Linked DNA regions of Homo sapiens: region 2 is linked to region 1. Evidence: fine-mapped expression QTL. A gene starts in region 1. The other region holds a variant in brackets. All regions are shown on one strand. Distances are between the middles of the regions.

The links.
Region 2: its variant is fine-mapped to the expression of POLR3A in hypothalamus (GTEx, PIP above 0.99).

The regions. Positions count from the first base shown.
Region 1 is chr10:78,027,341-78,032,721 of GRCh38, forward strand. POLR3A (RNA polymerase III subunit A) reads right to left here and starts at 2,175. Exons shown (of 31, transcript NM_007055.4): 1 at 2,024-2,175. The coding sequence starts at 2,067. RefSeq lists an enhancer at 2,095-2,344.
Region 2 is chr10:78,705,860-78,711,240 of GRCh38, forward strand. All of the region lies in intron 1 of LOC105378379 (a long non-coding RNA gene), which reads right to left. Among named protein-coding and RNA genes, the nearest start is that of ZMIZ1-AS1, 360 kb to the right of the region's middle. The variant C/A (reference allele first, on the strand shown) is at 3,302.

The sequences.
Region 1 (5,381 bases):
AACTTTGGTAGGGAATTTATTTAAATAACATAAATGCAGCCGGGTGCGGTGGCTCATGCCTGTAATCCCAGCACTTTGGGAGGCCAAGGTGGGTGGATCACGAGGCAAGGAGATTGAGACCATCCTGGCTAACATGGTGAAACCCTGTCTCTACTAAAAATACAAAAAATTTGCTAGGCGTGATGGCCCACACAATGGAAAGCTGCTAGAGGATTTTTTTTTTTCCCTGAGACAGAGTCTTGCTCTGTCACCCAGGCTGGAGTGCAGTGGTGCGATCTCAGCTCACTGCAACCTCTGCCTCCTGGGTTCAAGCGATTCTCCTGCCTCAGACTCCCAAGTAGCTGGGGTTACAGGCATACAGGCATGCGCCACCGCACCCAGCTAATTTTTGTATTTTTAGTAGAGATGAGGTTTTACCATATTGGCCAGTCTGGTCTTGAACTTCTGACCTCATGATCTGCCTGCCATGGCCTCCCAAAGTGCTGGGATTACAGACGTGAGCCACCACTCCTGGCCTCTGCTAGAGGATTTTAATTGACAATACCCTTAATTTGCACTTTGACAGAAGCACTTTCTCTGTTTTGTGAGAATGTATTATATCTGACTGGGCGCAGGTGTACAGGTGGGTGTGAAGGGCCAGTGTCGATGTAGAGCTACCACATGGGAGAATGCTGCATTCACCTAGGTAAGACACCTGTTCTAGTGAATGGCAACCATCCACACAGCTGCCCAAGCAAGGCATTCTGTATATCCGTCTCAAGGTCTCTCGACCTCTAATTCTTTCCACCATGAATCAAGAGATTTTCCAGAAGGAGAACTCTTATCAAGATACTCTCCTGTTGAAAATCCTTCAAAGGTTCCTCACTGCCTACAAGATGACTTCTTAACACAGCTTCAAGTCTTCTGCTTCCTTCTGATCACCTGTGTTCTCTCCCTCAGGTCTGCTCCTTGAAAAAAGCAGTTTGGTCTGCTTTCTTTTGCCTGGACCCATTATGTGCTCTCAAAACCCCCTGGACCTACCCTTGTCATTGCACTTGTCGTACCCAGTGTTGACTTGTGTACCTTCTCCAACTAGATTAGGCAGTAAAAGTTTTATTCAGACCGTATCTTTAACGTCCAACACTGGGAATAACGCGCAGTATCCTCCTCAGTGTCTGCTGTAAGAATGATGAATTCACTTTTTTTTTTGAGACACCGTCTCACTCTGTCACTCAGGGTGGAATGCAGGAGGTTGCCCACTGCAACCTCTGCCTCCCAGGCTCAAGTGATTTTTCGGCCTCAGCCTCCCGAGTAGCTGGGACCACAAGGGCGCGCCACCACGCCTGCTAATTTTTGTATTTTTGATAGAGACGGGGTTTCGCCACGTTGCCCAGGCTAGTCTCAAACTCCTGAGCTCAGGAGATTCACCCGCTTCGGCCTCCTAAAGTGCTGGGATTACAGGAGTAAGCCACCGCGCCCGGCTGGATTCACTTTCTTACCGAGAACTCTAAGAAGGAGCCACCGCCTAATAACGTATTTCTGAAGGCAAAAGTCCGGATAGCAGCTTTATTTCTGACACTGCCATCCGTCGGCCTGTGGTACAGCTTTCTAGTGGGCAACCCCATCCTTTTGGTAAGCAACTACTGCCTCCGTGTCAGACGCTCTGCGGCTGACAGAATTAGAGACAGTCCCCGCCCCAGATTGCTCCCCTCGCTGCAGCAGGGGATAGTTCGCTGAAGAACAGGGATCATTGTATGACTTCAGGAGAATGCGAGCTTTGGCCCAGGGTGCACAAATCATTAAGGCTCAGGCCACTCCGACTTCTCCGCCCAAGTCCAGGGACCTCTCGAGGTGCTGAAATCCCCTCAGCCTGACCAATGCTCTTTGACCAACGCTGGTAGTTCTGGGCGCTGGTCACACCTATGGACTACTGGCCCTCCCCTTCCCATTGCACCCCATCTCTGACCCTGCAAGACCCGGGACCGCTGACCTCGGACCCCTTGCCCTATTTCTCAGCCCTTTGGCCACTCTTACTCCGTCTTACATTTTCTTGGCCACATCCGTCTCCCGGAACTGCTCCTTCACCATGATGACCGCTGCCGGGACGCCTCCTTGGCACTCGGGAGGCCAGATTAGAGAAACGATGCCCCCAGCACCTCCTGGGGCTGCTTCTGGACTCGCCGCTAACACATCTGCGGCATCCTCTCGGCCACCGTAGAGTGTCCCACGTGTCCGCTTCCTCTTCCGCTACTCGCCCGCGCGTCTGTCTGTCAAGAGAGACTTCCGGCATGCCTTTTTTTTTTTTTTTTTTCCCTTTCCCCGCACCGTCACCTGGTGGCGCTTACTGGAAGCCGCACCGAGGCGTGTGCTGTATTTTAAAAATCCCATTTCTGGTCAATTTCTCCACGTAATCAGACACCCGCAGAGAAACTGCATATAACTCTTTGCCTCAAGGCTTTTAGACAAGCAGAGGGCCAAAACTTGCATAAAATGGAAAATCATCATCATTAACATCAGTACCATCTAAATTAAGAGCTTCTAATTGTTTTAAGGGAAGGTGGAAGCTAAAATGAACCGGCCCATCCAACAGAGGGCACTATCTGTGGAGGACCAACAAAGGAAAACAGAGCGGAAAATATGGGCGCACATGTGCCTCCAGTTCATGAAGTTATTTGGAGGGAGGGGGGAAGAATTAAACTTACATTATTGATTACAAAAACAGTTGAAAATCTGTTAGAGTGAAAACAGCCATGGTAATCTACAGAAGAAAAGGGAGAATGGAAAGTAAAGATCATTCATGTCTTGAAATAAGTTGTCTACAGTCTGTGAGAACTTGTGGGAGGTGATCCTAGTGTGATATATTAGTGCATGAGCCTAGCAAGGAAATCACATCACCACAGGGCTTAGCGCTTAGAATTAGAACTAAGTCCTCATTATTTGTGAGAAACTCAAAACAGAACTTAACAAAAGTGTTTAACAACTTTCAATTTTTAAGAAGGGACGCTATCTCATTTTCAGACGCCATGGATCCTCACTAGCAAAACACAATGTCACAGACAAACGAGGCATATCAGGTTTTTCTAACTCATTTCGGTACTCCATCACTTAATCATGAAATAATGTTGACTATATATATATATATATATATATATATATAGTCAACATTATGGGTTTTTTTTGTTTTTTTTTTTTTTTTTTTTTTGAGACGGAGTCTCGCTCTGTCGCCTAGACTGGAGTGCAGTGGCGAAATCTCGGCTCACCGCAACCTCCGCCTCCCGGGTTCAAGCGATTCTCCTGGCTCAGCCTCCCGAGTAGCTGGGACTACAAGCGCCCGCCACCACGCCCAGCTAATTTTTGTATTTTTAGTAGAGACGGGGTTTTACTATGTTGGCCAGGCTGGTCTCGAATCCCTGACCTCGTGATCCGCCCGCCTCAGTCTCCCAAAGTGATAGGATTACAGGTGTGAGCCACCACACCCGGCTCTGATGTTTACAATATTATACCAACAAGGGTTGGATCGTGTGTGACTTATCTAGAGGTTAAGAGCAAAAGTTATGAAATCACAGTGCCATCATGGGAGTCTAGCTTTCACCATTTAAAGTTGTGTAGGCAGCCAGGCGTGGTGGCTCACGCCTGTAATCCTAGCACTTTGGGAGGCCAAGGTGGGCGGATCACCTGAGGTCAGGAGTTCGGGACCAGCCTGGTCAACATGGTGAAACCCCATCTCTACTAAAAATACAAAAATTAGCTGGGGTTGGTGGTGTGCGCCTGTAATCCCAGGTACTCGGGAGGCTGAGGCAGGAGAATCGCTTGAAGCTGGGAGGTGGAGGTTGCAGTGAGCCGAGACCATGCCATTGCACTGCAGCCTGGGCGACAAGAGTGAAACTCCATCTCAAAAATAAAAAAAAATAAAAAATAAAGTTGTGCAGGCCGGGCGCGGTGGCTCACGCCTGTAATCTCAGCACTTTGGGAGGCCGAGGTGGGCAGATCATGAGGTCAGGAATTTGAGACCAGCCTGACCAATATGGTGAAACTCCGTCTCTACTAAAAAATACAAAAATTAGCCTGGTGTGGTGGCGCATTCCTGTAATTCCAGCAACTCAGGAGGCTAAGGCAGGAGAATCGCTTAAATCCGGGAGGCGGAGGTTGCAGTGAGCCAAGATTGTGCCACTGCACTCCAGCCTGGGCAACAGAGCAAGACTCTGCCTCAAAAAAAAAAAAAAAAAAAATATATATATATATATATATAGATATAGATATAGATATATGTGTATATATACACATACGTGTATATATACACGTATATAAAGTGTGAACTTGGGAAAGTTATTTAATCTTATTGTGTGTTAGTTTCCCCATTTATAACATGGGTGAGTAATATGTATCCTATTTCTTAGAGTCAATGGGAAGGTTAAATAGCAAAATGAAGGTAAAAGTAATTAGAATGTAACAGGCACATTACAATCACTCAATAAATATTCTTCTGCCTCAGCCTCCCGAGTAGCTGGGACTACAGGTGCGCACCACCATGCCTGGCTAATTTTTGTATTTTTAGTAGAGACGGGGTTTCACCATATTGGCTAGGCTGGTCTTGAACTCCTGACCTCGTGATCTGCCTGCCTCGGCCTTCCAGAGTGCTGGGATTACAGGCATGAGCCACCGTGCCCAGCCGGCTGACTATTTTCTTAAGAATAAGGATAGTTGGTCACCTCGGGAGGCTGAGGCAGAAGAATCGCTTGAACTTGGGAGGCGGATGTTGCAGTGACCCGAGATCCCGCCACTGCACTCCAGCCTGGGTGACAGAGCGAGATGCGGTCTCAAAAAAAAAAAAAAAAACAAAAAACGAAAAAAAAGAAAAATAGTCGGCCGGGGACGGTGGCTCACGCCTATAATCCCAGCACTTTGAGAGGCCGAGGCGGGGGCGGATCACTTGCGGTCAGGAGTTGGAGACCAGCCTGGCCAACATGGTGAAACCCCGTCTCTCCTAAAAATACAAAAATTAGCTGGGCATTGTGGCGCAGGCCTGTAATTTTAGTTACTCTGGAAGCTGAGCCAGGAGAATCGCTTGAATCCGGGAGGTCGAGGTTGCAGTGAGCCGCGATGAAGCCATTGCTCTCCAACCTGGGTGACAAGAGCTAGACTCTGTCTCAGGAAAAAAAAAAAAAGAAAATAGGAAAGCTGCCCGCAAAGCCTGCACCTTGGACACCTCGTCTGCACTAACATTTGGGAAATTCTTCTTATTATTTCTCCGGAACATATATATTTACATTCTTTACATGTCTGTTTCACGTTAAAGAAAATATTTCTGGAGCAATCAATTTTTTTTTCCTTTTTTTTTTTTTTTTTCTGAGACGGAGTTTCGCTCTTATTGCCCAGGCGGAGTGCAATGGTGCGATCTCGGC
Region 2 (5,381 bases), 680 kb after region 1:
TAAATAGCATCTTTGTTGAACATCTCTTCATATAAACTCTTATCTGCAGTGTTTCTTTTTTTTTTTTTTTTTTGGATTGCCTTTTTTTTTTAGGATAGATTCCTAAAGTTGAGATTTCTGGGACAAAACAGTCAGCTTTAAGATCCTGCTATCTATGAGCTCGCTTATTTGCTCCAAATTACTCTTTTTGAGATACTTGATGAAGATACACTTAGTTTGCTGGAATAAGGAGTCACACCCACCAGGTGTGAGGGAGAGAGATTGCTGCTATTGAAGTCAGAATTACTCAGTGTCATAGTTCAGCTCCGCCACTTAACACTTTGAGAGATCCTGACCAAGTGACCCCACTGAAGCTCGATTTCCTCTCCTGTAAATATAGGAGGTAATATAGGCACAATAATGCTTAGCTATTGTCAAGAAGATAATATGCATTAAATGTCCAGTGTCCCTCCGTCAAAACTAGGCACTTGTCTCATGTCCATTATTCTTCTTCCTTCTCTTCACAGCCTTCAACTCCATCATAAATATGCACCTTTGGCTTCTGAGTCCTGTATATGTCTGACTCCTAGGATGTGAGTCACCGATCTGGCAGCATGACTAGGTGACATTATGATGCTGTGGACAGCAATGGGCCTGCAACCTGAAGCTCAGGATCCAGGCCCACCCCTCATTAGCCTGTGATCTCAGGAAACCCCTCAACACATTTTGAGTCTGGCCCTCATTAAAAATGGAGGCAAGGAGGCTATTTTACATCAGCCCAGGGGTAGGGGTCAGGCAAGAGGCTGGATGTAGCAACGCGCAATGTACTGCCATGGTCTCTATAAACATCAGTTAGTTTTATTGTCAGCAACTTGCTTTAAATATACTGGGGCTTGCTTCTGTGAACTAACTCATTTCATTTTCTCCTACTAGATTATAGGCCCATAGACTGACTGGGTAAGCCTCGAATCACTACATACTATAGTAATTACTAATTACATGTTTCTGCCTTCTGTGGCTTATTAGTAAATTGCATGTAGATGGATCTAAAAGTAATTGCCCTTCTTTCATAACTTCAGCAGCCTGCAGAAATCACAAAGAATTACCTTATTTACTTCCTAAGTGATTCCCAGTGGTCATTTATCAAATATACAGAAGAAAAAAATCATACAATCATCAAATATTCTTCTGCTTACTAATGATAGAGAGGGTCACAAGAAATCTTGAATGGAAAAGGCTGTTAAACAGCTGCCGACTAACTGTATGTAAATATCCCCCTGTGGGTAATAGCTTAATTTTGATCATTGTTCAAAAGACCAAGCACTTTAAATTATTAATAGGTGTCAGCTACAAAAGAATGTTTAACTGGAAACTTACAAGAAGAGAGCTTGATCCGTACAAATGACGTGGTGTCTTTCACCCCCCTGGTGTGTGGGAAAGAAAGAGGGGTGGAAAGAAAAGGATAAAAAGCACGATAGGCCAAAAGTCTGCCTCATTTTTTCCCAGAGTGGGGTTTTGTGGCTTGTGGGTGTATTGCTTTACCACCTTGGAAACTGGGCTGGGCTACTTTCATTTATTAGGTTGGCTATACATAGTTTTCCTCTCTTTAAGCAAAGTTGACTCCAACTAAGCCAAAAACTGGAAGCCACTGAGATTACCAGGTTGTAATACAAGCCTTTATACTTTTGCTGTGATAAAAACTTCTTCACATCCAAACACATGGCATAGACACTTTTCATTGTGAACAGCGCTGATGTGATTCTGCTCAAATAAACTGAAGATCCCATTTCAAATGATTCATTTGATAGAAACATCAGGATCACTGATACGTGGATTGACCTCTGTGATCCTTTCCCTAAAAACACATACAGTGGATCATGGGATTGTTGAGTTAATAAGAAAGAAGAAATGGCTTGTTTTTCTGTTTCCTTTTCTTGGTTTTTATGGCAGTATGGACTTCTGGCATTTTGGGTAAGCCATGAGTATTAGAAATGAAAACGAAGGAAGAGGTAGGGCATGAAGGATTAAGGAAAAGGTTCAGGTGTGTATATTATGATCTGCCATGATAAGAAACTCCTTCCTGGTTCTCCTTCCTCCTTCTGTATGCACACCCTCCCTGTCCAGACCTGTAGGATGAAGAGTTAACATGCCCAAGCAGCAACACCACTGAGCACTGAGGAAGCTTTCAGACACGGGAAGGGGCGGGGGGCCACCTCCATCCTTGCCACATTGCCGTTACATTTCTGATGTAGGACAGAAATCATAAGAATGTTGCTAATCAGAGATGCAAACTGCTGATGACAGAACCAGAGCTGGAGCCCAGTAAACAAAGTCCATGGGGATTTTTAACTAGGATTTGTGCTCTGGCCATGTGGGATGGGGTTGGGGGATGTTGCAGGAATAGGTGCCTTGATTGTCCTGAGGCTGTGATAAGAGTCTGGGACAGCCTCACTGGGGCACAAGGCCAAGGCTGTCACCATTCTGGGGGTCCCTTCCCTGCCCTCTCTTGGGCTGTCCTCTCCTCCTGGCTGTGCCGACTCCTATCCCACCATAAATGCATTCATCCTTTGGCTGCCCAACTCCTCTGACCACCCAGGTTGTGAGCCCCATCATCCACAGGGTACTGCTGACAGGATCGAGGTCCCTTGAGCCCAGGCTGAGGTCATAAGTACCATACTGAAAGCTTGCTGTGGTTGTTTTGTAGGTCAATTGAGGCTCCTCCAAAGAGACATAACACTCCTTAGAGAAGGAGAAAGACCACCAACTTTGCACCCTCCTCTGTGCCAGGCCTTGGGCTAGGCCCAGGGAGCTCATAGTCTACTGCTGAAGACAGATGGGTCAGCAACCATGGCACACAGTGCAATGAGGCTAAAGCAAGTGTCAGAACCAGGGTCAGAGGAGACATTGAAGCTGAGTGACCACTCAGGACACAGGGACAGCTTCTGGAGAGAGAGAATGTCTGGATTACATTTTGAGGGATGAAGAAGAGCTTGTCAAGCAGGCAGAAGGGGTCTCCATAGAGCAGGTGTCTTTGTTCCTTGGTGGCTTTTTCCTTCTCTTCCTTAACACACACACACAAGGAGATTGCCTAGAACAACTTTGGGCAGCACATTGCAATTTCTTATTTGGGTCCAACTGGCTACATCAGGCAGCTTCAGAAGCCTCTAGCCACATTATGTGAGCCCCCTTATCATCTTCTGCTGATTGCCTCCTAGAAATGAGGCAACTGAAACCAGAACTGACCAAGTCGCCGCACCTGTTTGCTTGTAATACTTGAACGGTTGTCAGAAACCAATAATAATAAGAGCCAGCATTTTTAGAG[C/A]CTTACTATATGGCAAGCATGGTGCCAGTATTAGTCTGTTTTCACACTGCTGATAAAGACATACCCGAGACTGGGAAATTTACAAAAGAGAGAGGTTTAATGGACTTACAGTTCCATGTGGCTGGGGAGGCCTCACAATCATGGTGGAAGGTGAAATGCATGTCTCACATGGCAGGAGACAAGAGAAGAGAGCTTGCACAAGGAAACTCGCCTTTATAAAACCATCAGATCTCATGAGACTTATTCACTATCACGAGAATAGCATGGGAAAGACCTGCTCCCATGATTCAGTCACCTCCCACCTGGCCCCTCCCACAACACAAGGGAATTCAAGGTGAGATTTGGGTGGGGACACAGCCAAACCATATCAGCGCCTCAACTCACATTATCATAAGACTGATTTGGATGCTATTAATATTCCCAACTTACAGATGAGAATAGCAATACTTAGCAAAATTAGACAATTGGCCCAAGGTTGCACAGCTAGTAACCAAGCAGAGCCAGGATCAAATACTGTTTTTTCTGATGTTCACAATTAAGCTCTTGGCCTTGGAATTCCTGACATAAGTTTAGGTGTTTGGTGGCCATTCGGATGCCTTATTTATGAGCCACTGTTTGTATAGGGCTTTTTATTCTCAGGAGGGTGAACGGTACACAGATGAAAGACATTATTTCTAGGGGAACTTCATTCATTCAAGTAACCTCCAGTATGGGCTAGCTTAGTGCTGGGCACTGCCCTAGGAGCTGGGTTATGAGGAGAAGAGCAGGTGTTTCTGCCCCCAGAAGCTGAGTCCCAGACAGAGAGACATATCACGATGATGCAGTATGTGGTTTGGCCATTTAAGCGTTTCACAGGAGAGGGGAAGATCCCTGGTTCCTGTTGCAGGGAGTCAGGGTGGAGTTCTCAGGAAAGATTCACCTTGAAGGATAAGTGGATGAACAGGATGGGCCAGAACTCTAGCAAAGGCATAAATCCATGAAATCAAGGTTCTACACAGCCAGGGAAAAAGAGATGCCAGGGATATGGGGGAGGCTGGAGCTAAAAGATAGGCTATGGCCAAGAAAGCCTCGTGAAGAAAAGTGGGGTTTTATTTTGTGACTGCATAAGGGCTATTGCTGAGCTTTTCTTAGCCGAGACATATTAGCACCAACCAATTCAGGCTTTTTTGTTTGTTGGCTTGTTTGACTTTTCCAGGGCAGAGGTTCCCAAACTTTAGCCTGCACCAGAATCAGCTAGAAACCCCCAACCCCAGCAACTCTGATTCAGTGTGTCTGGGGTGGGGCCAGAGAATTCTCATTCCTACAGAGTCCCCAGGTGCTGCTGGTACCACTGGTCTGTGGCCACTCTTGGAGAATACTACATGGAATTCCCACTCCGCTTACCAGTGATGAGATTAGGATGGGCACATGCAATGAGGGAAGTCTGCTGCAGGCTTCTGGAAAGGATCTCTCAGTATTAAAGAAGAGAACCCAGGAGGAGATGGTGCTTTCTCCCCGCTGGAGATTTTCATGTCTGATATGATACCTGGAACTGCTAAAGCCATCTTGCAGCTGTGAGGGGAACAAGCAGGACTAAGTCAGCTCACTGAGCAAAAAATCTGGAAAGCACCTGGATCCTTGATGGTGGCATAGAGACATGAAATCAGCCAACCCTGCAAACCCCAGCCCACGGACTTAGCATGGGAGGCAATGACTGTGCCTTATTGTTCAAGCCCATTCAGAACTTGTTTTCTGCTGCTTGTAGCTGAAGCCATCCTCATAGGCACAATATACACTCTACGGTTTGCTTTATTGCTGCTTAACCACTGCTGCTTTGTTCTGTGTCCTCTTCTTTCTTTTCACCCCTTTCTTGGTCTTTCAAACATCTCTGCCTCCCAGTGGCTATTTACAGGCTGCTGGCACTACATCTATCTATCTGACCTGGGCCTCTCTCCTTGATATGGTGTGGCTGTGTCCCCATCCAAATCTCACCTTGAAGTTTAATAATCCCCACATGTCAAGGAGGGAGCCAGGTGGAGATAATTGAATCATGGGGATGGTTTCCCCCATACTGTTCTCATGATAGTGAACAAGTCTCATG